2 separate regions of the Homo sapiens genome follow, and region 1 is linked to region 2. Evidence: fine-mapped expression QTL. A gene starts in region 2. The other region holds a variant in brackets. All regions are shown on one strand. Distances are from middle to middle.

Region 1 (8,348 bases), 510 kb before region 2:
CCCTCTTTCTCAGCTCTTACTGCAGCCAGATGTGGTCATGTTTCTAGCTCTTGTTGATGAAATCTGAATAGAAGTGATGTTTGTCTCTTTCAAATTAAGATTGTTAAGAAGAGCATGCTTTCTCTCCATGAAGGAAAGCTGCCTACCAAACAGGAATAATCCCCTTTGACTATATAATTGAGTCATTGTTTTTGCGCCATTTGCTACCTTAGTTTACCATATACTAACAACTGACCTAGAATTGTTGTGAAGAACATTTTAACACATAGCCTCACTGACAGTAAAATCTTAGTAAATGTTAGCAATTTATAAGTAATGCTTTTACTGGGAACTATTTGTTGATATTTACTAGTTCTGTTAACAATCAGTTCCTTCTATAAGAAGCTAAAAGAAATGTCAATCAACTTGATAAGAGTATAAACACTAAATCCAACTTGTTAAGCCCATAATATGAACATGCTATTTGATTCAAAAAGTATTTTATATTATCTGAAGTAAACATGTTATTCTGTCAATAATGAACTTCCAAAGTTTTTCACAATAAGTGCCTGCTTCTTTTATATTTATCAAGGTATTTATTTAATACATGAATACATGAATGATCCAAAATAGTAACTGTCTTAAAACCAGCTTATAGCAACTTTGTATACTGGTCTCAGACAATGCAGTAAAAATGAATGTATAGAGGTTCAGCAATTGTTTTCCAGCCTTCTTTAATGTTGAAGGGAGTCAATAACTAAAATAGCCCAGCTGTGAATTTGATAAACTGGTAGTGCTATATTTAGTAATCCATTCAATAATCAATAAGCTATGAATTGTATTGGATGTATAAATATAATCTAGTGTAAAAATTACTCTTTGACAGACTATATCAGAAATATTATTTCTTAGAAATTCTTTTTGACTTGGTTAACATGTTCTCAGTCATTTCCACAATATCAGTCATCAGATTGTTGTTTTATACAGAAACAAACCCCCTTCACAAGCCATCATTCTCCAACTCTTTAAAATCATATAGGATTTCTGTGTATTTCACAACTAATTAAATGGCAAATTATCTTTACTTTCTGTTTTATTCTGTGGGAAGTATTATAAAATCCAAGCCACTGAAACAGATGATGAATTTGACTAAAATAAGAATGTATTTTTGCACAATAATGAAATATTTAAGTGCACTGTATTTGCTCCTTGACACTTTTTATAAGTTAAAAAATAATATTACCCAATAGGTGCTTTTTGAGCCCTCATCCTCCACCTTACTTCCCCCCTCTAGTAGTCCTCAATGTCAATTGTTCCCATCTTTATATCCATATGTATTCAATATTTTCCTCCCACTTATAAGTGAGAGCATGTGGTATTTATTTTTCTATTCTTGTGTTAATTTGCTTAGGATAATGGTCTCCAGCTGCATCCATGTTGCTGCAAAGGACATGATTTCATTCTTTTTTATGGCTGTGTAGTATTCCATGGTGTATATGTACCACTTTTTCTTTATCCAATCCACGGTTGATAGGCAGGTAGGCTGATTCTATGTCTCTTCCATGTGAATAGTGCTGTGAAGAACACACGAATATATGTGTCTTTTTGGTAGAACAACTTATTTTCCTATGGGTATATATCCAGTACTGGGATTGCTGAGTCAAATAGTAGCTCTGTTTTAAGTTATTTGAGAAATATCCAAACTGCTTTCCACAGTGGCTGAACTAATTTACATTTCTACAAACAGTATATAAGCCTTCACTTTTCTTTATAACCTCTCCAACATCTGCTATTAAAGTTTTTATTATTTATTTATTTATTTCAAATATTAAAGAGTTTATCTGAGCAAAAAGAATTCAAAAATTGGGCAGCATTCAAAATCAAAAGAAGTTCACAGAGCTCTGCTGCAACAGTGTGGGCAATGTGCTTTTAAGAAAATATATTTGATTTATTAGAGTGGAAATTCTCTAGGTAGAGGTTAGTTGGTGGTTTCTGATTGGCAAAGTCTTTAGTTTTGTTTTACTGTTTACATTGGGCTTTTGGATTGCTTATATAGGAACCCAAAGTGTTGGAGTCATCTCAGCCTGATGACCTCCCAATTAAAAAAAAATTGTAACATCTTTAAGGCAATGGTCTTAAAAATTTCTATTTACTCTCTTTTTTAAAAAAAAAAATGCATGCACAGGTTTGTTTTATAGGTAAATTGCATGTCTCAGGAGTTTTGTGTACAGATTGTTTTGTCACCTAGGTAATAAGCATAGTACCCGATAGATAGTTTTTCAATCCTCATCCTCCTCCCACCCTCCACCCTCAAGAAGGCCCCAGTGTCTATTGTTACCTACATCATTTCCATTTGAGAACAAATTTTAGCTCCCACTTCTAAGTGAGAACATGCAGTATTTGCTTTTCTGTTCCTATGTTAGTTCACTTAGGATAATGGCCTCCAGCTCCATCCATGTTGCTGCAAAAGATGTGGTCTCATTCTTTCTTATGGCCGCATAGTATTTCATGGTGTATAAGTATCACATATTCTTTATCCAGTTTACCATTGATAGGCATTTAGGTTGATTCCATGTCTTTGCTATTGTGAATATTTTTAAATAATAGCCATTTTGACTGGTGCAAGATGGTATCTTGTTGTGTTTTTGATTTGCATTTCTCTGATGATTAGTGATGTCGAGCATTTTTTCATGTTTATTGGCCACTTGTATGTCTTCTTTTGAGAAGTGGCTGTTCATATTCTTTATTCACTTTTTAATGAGGTTATTTAGTTTTCTGCTTGCTGAACTGTTTAAGTTCTTTACAGATTCTAGACATTAGACCTTTGTTCAATGCATAGTTGGCACAAGAAAAAACAAATGTTGGTGAGGATGCAGAAAAAGAACACTTATATACTGTTGGTGGAAATGAAAATTAGTACAGCCAATTTGGGAAACAGAAGGTAAGTTTCTTAAAAATTTTAAACTAGAACTACTATATAATCCAACAATCTAACTTTAAGGTATATACAAAAAGGAGTTGAAATTAGCGTGTTGATGAGACATCTGCACTCCCACGTTCATTGCAACATTATTTACAATAGCCAAGATACGAATCAAACTAAGTGTCCATCAGTGAATGAATAAACAAAGAAAATGAGTATATACACACAATAGAATACTATTCAGTCTTAGAAAAGAAGGAAATTCTGTCATTTGTGACAAGGTGAATGAAACTGGAGGACTTTATGCTCAGTGAAATATGCCAGACACAGAAAAATAAATACTGTATGATCTCACATATACATGGAAACTAAAAAATGTGAATTCATAGAAGCAGAGAGTAGGATGGTGGTTACCTGGGGATGGGGGCCAAACAGAGGGGATGAGGAGATGTTGGTCAAAGTGTACAAAGTTTCAGTCAGACAGGAGGAATAAGTTCTGGACATCTGTTGTCCATTACGATGAGTATAATTAACAAAACATATTGTATACTTAAAAATTGCTAAGTGAGTAGACTTCAAATGTTCTCATTACAAAAAATAATAAGTATGTGAGTTAATGGATATGTTAATTAGCTTGATTTAATCATTCAACAACATAGACCTATACTGAAACATCACATTGCACATAATATACACAATAAAAAATAAATAAAACAATTTAAAAATTAAATAAAATAATATTAAAACATTTCTCATGAATATACTCATGAAAGACAATTATCTGAGGAAATGTGAACTAAAAATAAGTAGTAAAATTTTCTTTTTTCCTGAGTCAAATTTGGGAGTTAGGGAAGCTTCCTCTGTTTTCTGTCAAGGATTAACATGGTTCTGTAGATTTCCCAAAATGATCTGCTTATGGAAGAATATATTTAAACCTAAATGGCAACGTAAACCAAGGATCAATGGTTATCAGTACAGTTTAATAAAAAGCAAATATAAATCAACACTATTTTCCAAAGATTTTCATAATTAATTTATAAGTAAAAATTAATTTAAAAATTAAGTAAAAATTAATTATAACATTAATTTAAATTAACTAAAATAACTAAGTTACAAATACTTTGGTAATTTAACATTCAAAAATAAATTATAAACTTCCACACAGGCATATTTGTAAATGAGGGGCTCCTGACCAATTGTTTCTACTAGAAATGTTTTCTGGAAAATTAAACAACTTCAAATTTAATATGACTGAAATCTTCATATATAAGTTACAGAGATAAAATCATGTGTCCCTTAAAGAACAACAACAGAGTTGTAGTCCTTAAATATTGCCTTAATGTCTTGAAGATCACAAAGAAAGCAATCCCAAAACACTTCTTATCATAAAATGCAAGTCAATGTTCATGAATGCATGAATAATACAGCCTTTTGGTGTTTCAGTGTGAGTCTATTACATCTGAAACTGATTTATATAAGAAAACAAATTATATTATAAAACTAGATATCTAGAAGAGTTAGGGTAGTTAATGCATGATACATGCAATCAGATTATCTTAGTCTTCCCGTTCTTGCATATTCCAAAATCCAATTCTTTCCCAACATGAAGAGAAAATTGTGTTCCTGACCAACTAATGTCTGCATGCTGTTTTCTCATATTATTTTATTCAGCATAGCCTGTTCCTAACGTAGTCAAATA[C/CA]AAAAAAAAAAAAAAAACCTATGAGGAAAGCAATAATTTTAAAGAACTACACGGGGCCTGAGTGTTTATCTGGCTTCAATTTACAGAAGAAAACCAGGAAACATGAAAATATCGGGAGAAAATAAAATGTAACTAAATAGGAAAAGATACCTTTGATGGAGCAGTGATTCTGAATTCATTCAATGCTTGCTCTTCCACATAAATGGGCAGCTTCTGCTAGTCTGTCCTTTCCATCTGAACTAGATAATGGTAGCTAATATTTATTTCATATGCATTATATGCCAGGTATCTTTGCAAGCACATTAAATACACTAAATCACTTAATCTCTGCAGGAGCGTATAGAATAAATTATTATTATCCTGTTCACCATTTAACAGATAATATTATATGAAATAATATGGAAGTTAATATTACCCGTAATTATAGAGAGCATAGAATTTGTCATCTATTTTGAAATACTTTGAGAATGAAAGTATGAGTAATTAGGACAGACATTAATTAGGGCTGTCACAGGCAAACCAAAACATATGATCATCCTACTTGTATTAAATAACGGTTTTAAGAAAATAGAAGTGACATTATAAATATTCTTTTAACATTTAAAAATTAGTACAATTTTGAATTTTTATTTTATTAGTTTCTAATACTTGAGACGGACTATATAGTATTGCAGTATTATTCACAATAGGTAGCAGTGTCGATAGAATTTTCAGCAATGTTTGTTTTATACTTCAAATAAGCAGGAAAAAAATTTGGCAGAGGACCCAGATAAGAAAAATACAGATAATTTTAGTTCCCTTTAGATGTACAGAAATTGCAAACTTTAAGATAAAATTGCTTAAGTCTTTATAGGAACCATATCTATTGCAAAGGTTTCTTGTTCTCAGAAATGTCAGCATAAAATAATTGCTAAAAGATATAATGCATTCACTTAACACGTTTGTTCAGGACATATATGCAATCTAATATTTCTTTTTACTTAGATCTAAATACTGAATAGTTAAGAGTCACAATTATTCAGAGAAATTGACTTATCTAACATCTATTGACTACCTACTATGTGCGGAGCATTTAAGGATGTTGAGAAGAAAAACAGTTAAATTATACTTAGGGGGATGCAAGTAGAGAAAGACAGAAGAGTCACTAGGTACATAATTGAACAATCATGACATATCAGCTATTAGTAATTGATATAAAAATAGATTATTGAAATAGTAACTTAAAGGTAGCAGAGTTTTGCTGGGTTTTCAAGGAATTCCTGTCACAGGAGTAAACACTTGAGTTGGAATTTTAATGATAGGGAATGAATGAGAAAGTTGGGGGAAGCATTTGGGGCAGAGGAAAAAGCAGATGCAAAGACCTGAGTTGGGAACAAATCCAGGTAGCTGAAGGGGCGGAAGAATCCAATAAGCTAGAAAGTAGATACAGCAGGAGAGCATGGTTCCAAGTAAGGTTGGGAGTTGACCCAGGCCAGAGCACAAGAGTTTGGGGACATAGTACTTACTATGGGTTTAATCTAAGCGCAAAAACAAATGCCATTAGAGTCTTAATCAGTGGGTACCATTATTTGATATCCTTTTTAGATGTATCACTTTGGCTACAATACAAATAACAGATTATGGGAGGGCAGAATGGAAACAGTGAAATAAGCAGATAGCTAAACAGTGGCTTCCGTTTGGGTGGGGGTATTGGAAATGGGAAGTGGTGGGTTCAGTTGGAATATATTTCCAAAATTGAAACAAGAAAGATTTACTGAAATCATAGCTCCTTTTTCTGTCATAATTGTTGCCTCATTAATGAGACCAGTTTTTTATTTTTCTGTTATAGTTTGTTTCGTTTTTCACCTGTCACGGGATTCAGGGAGTCAATTAACAGATTTCAGGTGTTCAGTGAACTCCCTACAATTGTATGCAAAATAATTGAGTGCATTTATTTATGTATACAATGTTAAGGGGAAAAGAGTTAATTACTGTCATCAGGTAATCAGAGGTCTGTGACCCAAAGTGAGGCAAGAACTATTGAGCTTATATTTCTAAATATTTCATACATGGTTTCCCATGACCTGGTTATTTTTCTGTTTTCTTCTCTTAATATCCCTGCCTGGTAATTTACATTTTAATAATACTGAACTGCTTCATCTCTTTCCAAATACACTGATATTTCTTTCTCCAATATCTCTTCTCTATTATAATGCTGTATTATTTGCCTCAGCATTTTTGGTTTGGCAAATTTTCCTCATCCTTCAAGTTTTGGCTAAGACATCAACTTCTGTTAGAAGTATCATCTGAACTCCTAAATTGAGCTTAATCATTCCCCTTATATGTCCCAAAAGTTTATTTAAAAGATACTGTGCTTTAAAGCTTTAAAATTTAGGTGGAATATAACGCCTGATTTGTGATACACTCTAGATGAAGGTAGCAATTATTTCATTATAGAATTCCCAAACAATAACATATAATTTCACATTATTTATTGTTCATATATGAAATACTTTATATATATATATATATATATACACACACACACATATATATATATGTAAGGTATATATAGACATATACCTTGTTGTTCCTGTCTAATCCCTCTACTTCAAACTTCAAACTCATGTGATGGTCCTGTATTTCTTAATAATTTCAGTTTATAACAATTTATACCTAAATACAGGACAAGAACTGTGCTTTTAACCTGTGTTTGTTTTTGAGGCTTAAAAAATTAATTTTCAGACAATTCTGGTTATATTTCTCATTTGGTCTGCCACAGTGTATTCTCAATATGACTTTCCATTACAAACGAATGTACATAATTACCAACTTATTTAATATCATTCATATGGTATAATGTATATTTTAAGCAATTTTTGAAATTACAAAAATATTATAATCATTTTACAGAAGAGAGAAAGAACAATAAATGAAGTCACTCAAAATGCTACCAGTTTAATACACTGTGATGTGATGCTGTTCCTCAATTTAAGATTTCTTTTGTCCTTTTTTCCATACTTACAATATCTATCCCTTTTTTCAACTTAAAAAAAAGTATCTTCCTTTTTAATGTAAATTTTATAGTGCTTAGTTTTGAATTGTATACAATATTCTTATGTAAATAAACTATTAATTATGTAAGAATTTCTTTATTAGAGTCTATTTGTGAATTTGTTTTCATACTGGTGTTATTTCATTACACAAGATTCACAGTATTGGTATTACTGATCAAAGATAATTAACCTAAAATAGCTGTTGATACAGATTGCCTAATGTATATCCAATACAGTTGTACAATTACAAAGTCACCATCAATAAAGGATAAGCCACTGTATATCACATTTTCCCATATAAATATTATTCACTATATCTTATTTAATGGATGCATAGAACATGATTTTTCATTTTCCTTTATTTTGCATTAGTATCATTGTGCAACTGAAATAGAATTTTTAAAATTATACATTTAAGTACTAATGATATTTCCTCTTTTGTTTGCCTATTTCCCGTTCATCATGTTATTTTTTTCCTCATTAACTTGTAAAAATTATTTTAAAGACAAGCAATTACTTCTACCATACTTGCAATTTTGTCTTAAAATGTGTTAACACACTGAACACTAATTGAACTATTTTATGTCACAAGCACCATGACAACAGGTTTATATACACCGGCTCACTCAATTCTTAACAATAATTATGAGACAGGTGCTATTGTTAGCTCCATTTCATAGATAGGAAACTAAGGTATACAACAATTAAGTAG
Region 2 (8,348 bases):
ATAAGAAAAACTATACTAAATATTTTCAAAGTAGAACTTACTTGTTTCTTAGCAGCACGTTTGGCTTGTATCTGTTCATATTCTTCTTGTGCTTTTTGATTTGATGTTTTCTTTTTATTTTTCTTTGGAATTGTAAAGGAGCTTTTAATTGGGGGATGAGGAAACAGGACTTTATTAGTAAAATGTCCAAAAAGGTATTAAAAACACAGTTGTAGCTTTTAAGAGTATATATTAAATAAAAGGCACAAATGGGGATTCTTAGAGAAATATTTCAACTAGGAAAAAATATAGAAAGCTATGAAAAATCCTAAAATGTTAAAAAAAAAAACTTTTAAAAGTAATGAAACCAGTATATGAATGATAGAAATGCCAGACTGAAAAAAGAATTAAACTTGTTGTTTAAGGATGTTAAGAAAATTATGTGTATATATGAACTTTAATCTCGAAGTTTTCTGAGCCCCTCCTCTCTATTCCATTTTACCTACCTAGTCATGAATCACCATACCTTGGATCTAGATACCATTTTGAACTGTTCTATCTTTAACTACTTCTCACCTCTCTGAAGATGTCCTTTTTGTCAAGGCTAATCCAACTACTTGGAATTCCATTCATTTCCTCAGCATCCTTGATTCAGTAATAACTTTACTTTCCTCTATCATTCAACTTTTCACTATACTCTGTAACTACAATATAATATTTTAATAGCTACTAATCACTAGCGACTTTGGACTAGTGACTAGTGACTGCCTAGTCCACAAATCCAGAGACCTGTCCTCAGTCCTATTCACCTTCAACTTTATAGTACAGTAGCACACCCCTTATCCATGGTTTCCCTGTTCCACGGTTTCAGTTACCTGCAGTCAACAGAGGTCCAAAAATATTAAATTGAAAAATTCCAGAAATAAACAATTCATATGTTTTAAATTGTACACCACACTGAGTGTTTGCTTTAAGTGAAAAGGTAAAAGTTCTTGACTTAATAAGGAAGGAAAAAAAATCGTATGTTGAAGTTGCTAAGATCTATGGTTTTAAAAAAAATCTTCTATACATCAAATTGTGAAGGAAAAATAAATTCATGCTAGTTTTGCTGTCATACTTCAAACTGCAAAAGTTATGGCCACAGTACGTGATTTAAGATGGAAAAGGCATTAAATTCCCAAGTAAAAGACATTAACAGAAATACATTCCAATTGACAGAAACTGGGTTTGGTACCATTTGCAGTTTCAGGGCATCCACTGGGGGTCTTGGAACATCTTCCAAACAGATAACGGGGGACCACAATATTTGATAGCTGACTAATCCCTCACAACTTTTCTCTGTGGACTGAGCTGTCACTGTATTTCTCTTTCTCCAGTCCTGAAAAGCTTAACTTCCTCAATGACAATATTTTCCCTGTTTCCACCCCAAAATAAACCGTAATCTTTAAAAGCATGATTTTTTACCTTCCTTTCTCATGATTTAAACTTCCTTACTTCAATTATCAGAGAATAACTCAAATCTACATTTCTACTGCTAATCTTTTCCCTGAACTTTATACTGATTATTTAACAATATAATGATCAAGCCTACCAAAAGTAGTAAACTTTTTGTGTCTCTGCCTTCATCCCCAATTACATTTTTACCCCCCGTGGTCCCATTTCCTGTTATTTTTAGCGCAAATAGCTCACGACTTTAAAAGATACGGTTTTAATGAAGTAAAAAATTATGCTCCCAAGTTAATACCCAGCTTCTTGCAATTTTAGATTTTAGCATTGTTTTTTAACTTTAAGTATGCAGCGATAGTTTTTTATAAGTTAACTCTTATAAAACCAAAGCGTCACGGAGCTGTGCATTTGCAATTGCAACCCATTTCTGGTCCTCTGCAGAAAATCCAGATTAATAGTAGTAGCTAACGCTCAAGAGCACTAACCACGTACCATATATACCCTTTAAGATCCTCATATACATTAACTCGCTGAGTCTTCACAACAATGTCATGAAACACCTTAGGAACACCTGAGTTTATGTGAGTAATCCATTCTGGAGCTGTGCAACATGGCAGCTCTGAAGTATATATTCATTACAGTATTATCTTTCCCAATTTAAAGAGGACATAGTGTTATTTTTCCCATTTTAAAGAAGAGGTCACTGGGGCACTAACATGTTGAGTCTGGCTCTAGAACCCATACTGTTAATGACTAAAATTATAACACCTCTCAGAAGTTATTTTTCAAAAATATAGTCATAACATATGGTCCAATCAAGTTACCACCTGTACTTGAGAGGAAGAAACCCAAATTCCAGAGCTCTTAATTCCCATTACGTTACTTTGTCAATTAGGCTAAACCAGCCTAATTCAGTTATTGAAGCTAAAAATAGAGCCTCCATGAAAATGTTTCCCTAATTAAACCGTGACTTCTAAAATGTGTTAAATAAGAAAAAATACAATTCCTATATAAATTATCCTATAGTACTTTTAAATAATAAAACAACACTTAAAGGATTTCAAATGAAGAAAATACATACTTTACTGTTTTAATACATTGTTCTTCTGGCTGAGGCTGGTCAAAGCTACACTGATCTTCAAATAAAGGCTCGTCAATGCTACACTGTTCTTCAAGCAACGGCTGGTGAACTTGTTCTGACAAAGGATGGTCGACTTTTCTTGCTTGCTTCCTATGTCTTTCCTCTTCAGCTAAATAGAGATGTTTCAGATTATCTGGGTATCGATCTGTGAATTGAGATTCCAGTGACGTTTGAGCCTTCTTTTCCTTCCGTAGCAATTTCTTGTAACTTTGCTGTATTTTCAGTTTTCTTCGAAAAGCAAAGCCTTGTCCTACATTGAGGAATATCATCCAAAATTACTTTCAGAGAAAAGAAGTTGAACGAAGAATGGAGCTGTTAATTACAAATGAAAACTTTTTTTACGTCATCACATTCAGATTCTAGTATTATATTTTGCTTTAAAAAATTATTTCAAGCAACAAATTTAAGCTGATGGATTGCATAGTAAGTTGGCCCTTTGCAAAAAGACCAGGCTAACAGTCATGCGGAAATCCAAGTAAGAATCTCAAAGAAAAACTGACCAGTTCAGACTGTTGCACAACTTGAGTTTACAGCTGTATTCACAAATCAAAACAAATTCCTTAGTTCATCTAAAACACTTAATCTGAGCCTTCAATAAATGCTTAAAAAATAGGAAAGAAAATGCCACATCTAGTATCTTGGACAAACTACATGTTTTCGAAAATGTTTCAACACGAAAGAAAAAGACAGTGTATGGTTGTCTGAAAAGCTAGCAATTATCGGAAGACTGAATTTAACATTTATATATTCCAAGTGGGATCTAAGAGACCTTACAGACAGCAATACAAAATGACAAACACAAATTAAAGCGAAGGCTGGAGGGCCTCGGGTATTTGTAATAAGGAAGAATTCGGAGCAGTGTTTCTGGCCCTGTCCTCCTCTCTATCCTTTACCTTACCACATGCGCAAGAGTTCACAGGGTCATAGACTCTCTCTGCTCAGTTTCTCAGGAAAAATATAGGAAAAAAGTTCTGATGAAATACAGGGTTACGTCAGAAAAGACGTTTAAATAATAGCAACACTGCTCCGTCTTCCTATCTAGAGCTCTGCGAAGCTCACAGCTTTAGCGGGCTCAGGAATGAATTCCCTTGCCCCAAGTAGGACCGGGTCTGGTTCCTAAATCCTTCTTCCAAGCTTCAGCGAATCTTATATCCTAAAACTTAGCAAGCCTGAGGATTTGCAAATGGTTGCCTTCTTACATACCCTCGCGAACGCTCCCCACGAAGGCTTGCGGGTGGTTAGGCCGCCATGTCTTCTGTCTCACATTCTTATTCCTGTACCCGACAGTGGAAACCCCTTCACCACGCGCCTCAATACCACCAGGCCGCCACTTCGCGGACCGCCTCACCGGCGCCATTGCAGCCGACTAACTGCGTCATCAGAAGACCACGACGGACGCCCACAAAATACGTCACCAAGCCGAAGCAATCAATCGCTCAGAAGGAATCCGGCTCGGAGCTCTACTGAGCCTGCCTGTGCTAATTTGGGCCGAGCTGGCGCCTCACGGCCATGTTTGCGCCACCTACAGCCTCGGAGGGTGAGCGTCATGGCGGCTTCTTGCCCTCTCCCGGTGACCCCGGACCTGCCCACGCTGCGTGCCAAGTTGCAGGGACTGCTGCAGTTCCTGAGGGATGCCCTGTCCATTTCCAATGCACATACCGTGGATTTCTACACAGAATCCGTGTGGGAGGAGCTGGTCGACTTGCCACCGGAGACAGTGCTGGCTGCGCTGAGGAAGTCAGCGTCGGAGACGGAGGCCCTGCCCTCAGAGACGCGCCCCCTAGTGGAAGCAGAGTGGGAAGCAGGTGGGTGGTGGGGTAGGCGGGGCGGGAAGGGAGGCGGAGGAGAAGGTCCCGGCAGACGAAGCGAGCCCCCTGGTGGAAGCCAGCAGAACCAGGTGCGTGGCGGCGGAGGCGGGGCGGCCCGCTGGGAAACCGAGGAGGGGTCGGATTAGTTGAGGGGTGGGGTGGGGATGTTCTTTGGAATCAGGATCACTCTTTCTTTGGGTGCTTGTGTATGTCCACAATTTAAAGAAAGCAGGAAACAGGGCAGGGGAGTTCCTTCATCTAGTAATTCCATAATAATTGACGCTAGGGAAACTAGGGGAGCAGTGCTCTCACAGGTTTTATAAATGCCAGCATGTGGTGGAAGATTACTCAACAGTTAATAAAGATAATTTCAAGTGGTGGTAATGAAGTAGAAAATAAAAACAGTGTAATGTGGTAGGGATTGTGTAAGGAGGCTGCCTCAATTTAGGAGGTCAGGAACATGAGAAGGCACTAGCTGCAGAGCCACAGGGAGGGGTTGCAGGCGGTGGGAACCGCAGGCTAGGCTTGGCTCTAGCCAGGTGAGGGGCTGCAGGTGCAGGACGGGAGGCAAGCAGAGGCCAGATGGCACAGGCCTTTCTAGGCCTTGGAAGGATTTTGGATTTTAAGTGTGACGGAAACCCTTGGGATTATTTAGGCAACATAGTGACCTAATTCACATTTGAAAAGATAACTGTGAATTATTTGAAGAATAGACTAGGGCAAAAGCTGAAGCTGAGAGGCCAGTTAGGAGACTACCTCAGTAGTACAACAGATGATTGTATCTTGGACTAGGATGGTATTCGGATAGTCACTATTTCATTTAAAAACTATTTTAAAGTACCTAATATGTGTCTTGAATTTTTGTAGGCTCAAGCTTTTCCTACCCTCAAGAAATGTAGATTCTTCTCAGGCAAGCATATTTTGGAAGTAGAATGATGGACACCAACAGGCTTCTGGGATTTTTACTTTCCTTCTAGACTTCCCAAAGTTACCCTTACTAGTGAACTTTATTCATTGAGCATTCTCTGAATGCAAAGCATCACTAGAGGGACCTCTTATAATAGCACTTGGTAAATACTGTTGTTGTTTTTTTAAGTAATTGTTATTGAAAAGTTAGGCACTTCTTCAGTTTGCTCTCATAATAAATATATGGCACTTATGATATGACAATTTTACTTAAACTCCAAAAGAGCAGAGTCTTTGTCTGACTTGTCAACTGATGTATTCCCAGCACTTGGTAAAATACTTGGCATACATTAGATACTGGATGAATATTTGTTGAATGGAGGAATTAATGAGTTACTCATGTTAGTTTTAAATAAATAAAATGAAACTACTCTCAAGTTTAGAGTGTAAGACTTTAATACGTGTTTAGCCTGGTCTCCAGACAATGGTAGAGTCAGATTGTCTTACATATTCTAATAATAATTGGATTATTTGATATTTACTATATACCCTGTAGTGTGCTAAGTGTCTTCATGTGTATTTTCTCTTTTAATCTTTACATCAGCCTTGCAAGATAGGTTCTGTTATTGTCGATTTGTGGAATTATAACTTGAGGAGTTAATTTGCAAGGGATATAGCTGATAATGGAAGATTCTCAAACCTGGGTCATCTGATTTGAAACTTTTTTAGTGCTGTAAGAAAAAAAGTATACTAGATAAGGGAGGAGTAAGTAAGGGGAAGAAGAGGAAAATGTTTGCATTTTTAAGTAAGTTGTCCTGGCAAGACCTCACTGAGGTGACTCTAACGCTGAAAAGATAAGAAAAAAACCGAGCCATGAAGATCTCTGGAGGGAAAGCAGTCCATTTAGTGACAACAGGAAACAGAAATGCCCTGACGAGGGAGCCTACAAGGTATGTTTAAGGAGCTGTAAGGAGACTGAAATAGATTTCCACTAGGGACTCACAAGGAGTATGGTCTTGTGTCCGGAATTGTTAGGTTCTTGGTCTCACTGACTTCAAGAATGAAGCCACAGACCCTCTCAGTGAGTATTATAGTTCTTAAAGGCGGCGTGTCCAGAGTTTGTTCCTTCTGATGTTTGGATGTGTTCGGAGTTTCTTCCTTCTGGCGGGTTCGTGGTCTCGCTGGCTTCAGGAGTGAAGCTGCAGACCTTTGCGGTGAGTGTTACAGCTCACAAACGCAGTGTGGACCCAAAGAGAGAGCAGCAGCAAGATTTATCACAAGGAGTGAAAGAACAAAGCTTCCACAGGGTTGTCGCTGCTGGCGCCAGCAGTCTGCTTTTATTCTCTTATCTGACCCCACCCACATCCTGCCGATTGGTCCATTTTACAGAGAGCTGATTGGTCCATTTTGACAGGGTGCTGATTGGTGCATTTACAATCCCTGAGCTAGACATGAAAGTTCTCCTAGTCCCCACTAGATCAGCTATACACAGAGCACTGATTGGTGCATTTACAAACCTTGAGCTAGACACAGGGTGCTGATTGGTGTATTTACAATCCCTTAGCTAGACATAAAGTTTATCCAAGTCCCCACTAGACTCAGGAGCCCAGCTGGCTTCACCTAGTGGATCCCACGTTGGGGCTGCAGGTGGAGCTGCCCACCAGTCCCATGCCGTGCGCCCGCACTCCTCAGCCCTTGGGCGGTCGATGGGACCAGGCACTGTGAAGCAGGAGGCGGTGCTCGTTGGGGAGGCTTGGGCTACGCAGGAGCCCACGGTGGGGGGGAGGGGGACTCAGGCATGGCGGGCTGCAGGTCTTGAGCCCTGCCCCGCAGGGAGGCAGCTGAGGCCCGGTGAGAATTCAAGAGCAGCGCTGGTGGGCCGGCACTGCTGGGGGACTTGGTGCATCCTCCGCAGCTGCTGTCCTGGGTGCTAAGCTCCTCACTGCCTGGGGCCAGCGGTGCTGGCCGGCTGCTCTGAGTGCTGGGCCTGCCAAGCCCACAACCACCCGGAACTCGCGCTGGCCAGCAAGCGTGGCGCGCAGCCCTGGTTCCCACCCGTGCCTCTCCCTCCACACCTCCCTGCAAGCTGAGAGAGCCAGCTCCAGCCTCGGCCAGCCTAGAGAAGGGCTCCCACAGTGCAGTGGTGGGCTGAAGGACTCCTCAAGCGTGGCCAGAGTGGGCGCCAAGGCTGAGGAGGCGCCAAGAGCGAGTGAGGGCTGCCGGCACGCTGTCACCTCTCAGTCTTCTGCTGATATTTTGTGAGGAGTTACAAGTAAACATAATTCCCAGAGCGCAATGCACAGTTTGGAAAAGCACACTAACAGATGTTCGGCACAATCATTTGGTGTTTTATGGAACAAAGTTTTTTCTAAAAGTCCTCAGTGTGTCCATTTCAGTAGGTTTCATGTGCCAGGTGATCTTCTTGTCTCATTAGAGTCCTAAGAGTTTCTTCTTCATTGTTCGTCTAAAAAGAACTAGAATAAAATATTTAATTCTCTAAAATAAAAAGCAAATATGTTAGAAATAACTATCTTTTCAGTGCATAAATTATGGCTTTCCAGACAGACTTCCTGGGGTCAAATATTGACTCCAGCACTTAGTAGCTGTGCTAACTTGGGCAATTTACTTCAACTCGTTGTACATTAGTTCCTCATCTGTAAAATGGGGGTAACTTTAGTACCTGCCTGATGGGATACTGTGAAAGGTAATTCAGCTAATATATAGAAAGGGATATCTTTCACGTGAAGTGAACAGCAGGTGCCCAAGCTGGAGCACGCTTGGTGCATTTTAAACACAGCTGAGCAGTCTTGGTGAGACCGGTGAGAGATGGCATTTGGAGGTAGCCCAGGACATCCTCACATAAAACTTGTAGGCTGTACTCAGTATTTGGCTTTTATTCTGAGTGAAATGCGAAGCTCTTTGAGAATTTTGTGTGGTGATGTGATACCGTGTGATTTATGTTTCAAATCACCTGGTTTCTGTGTGGAGAAGAGAAGGTAAGAAAGGTGAAGGAAATTAAGGGAAGAAACAGGAATACAATATAAGAGGCTATTAAAATAGTCCAGGGA

Evidence for each region.
Region 1: its variant is fine-mapped to the expression of CCDC59 in whole blood (INTERVAL, PIP above 0.99).

Annotation. Positions count from the first base shown.
Region 1 is chr12:81,843,819-81,852,166 of GRCh38, forward strand. No RefSeq gene overlaps it. Among named protein-coding and RNA genes, the nearest start is that of PPFIA2, 89 kb to the left of the region's middle. The variant C/CA (reference allele first, on the strand shown) is at 4,602.
Region 2 is chr12:82,354,454-82,362,801 of GRCh38, forward strand. It overlaps CCDC59 (coiled-coil domain containing 59), which reads right to left and starts at 3,934. Exons shown (of 4, transcript NM_014167.5): 1 at 3,770-3,934; 2 at 2,507-2,816; 3 at 42-141. The coding sequence starts at 3,923. It overlaps METTL25 (methyltransferase like 25), which reads left to right and starts at 4,076. Exons shown (of 12, transcript NM_032230.3): 1 at 4,076-4,371. The coding sequence starts at 4,113. RefSeq lists enhancers at 3,743-4,303, 3,814-4,373, 4,304-4,864.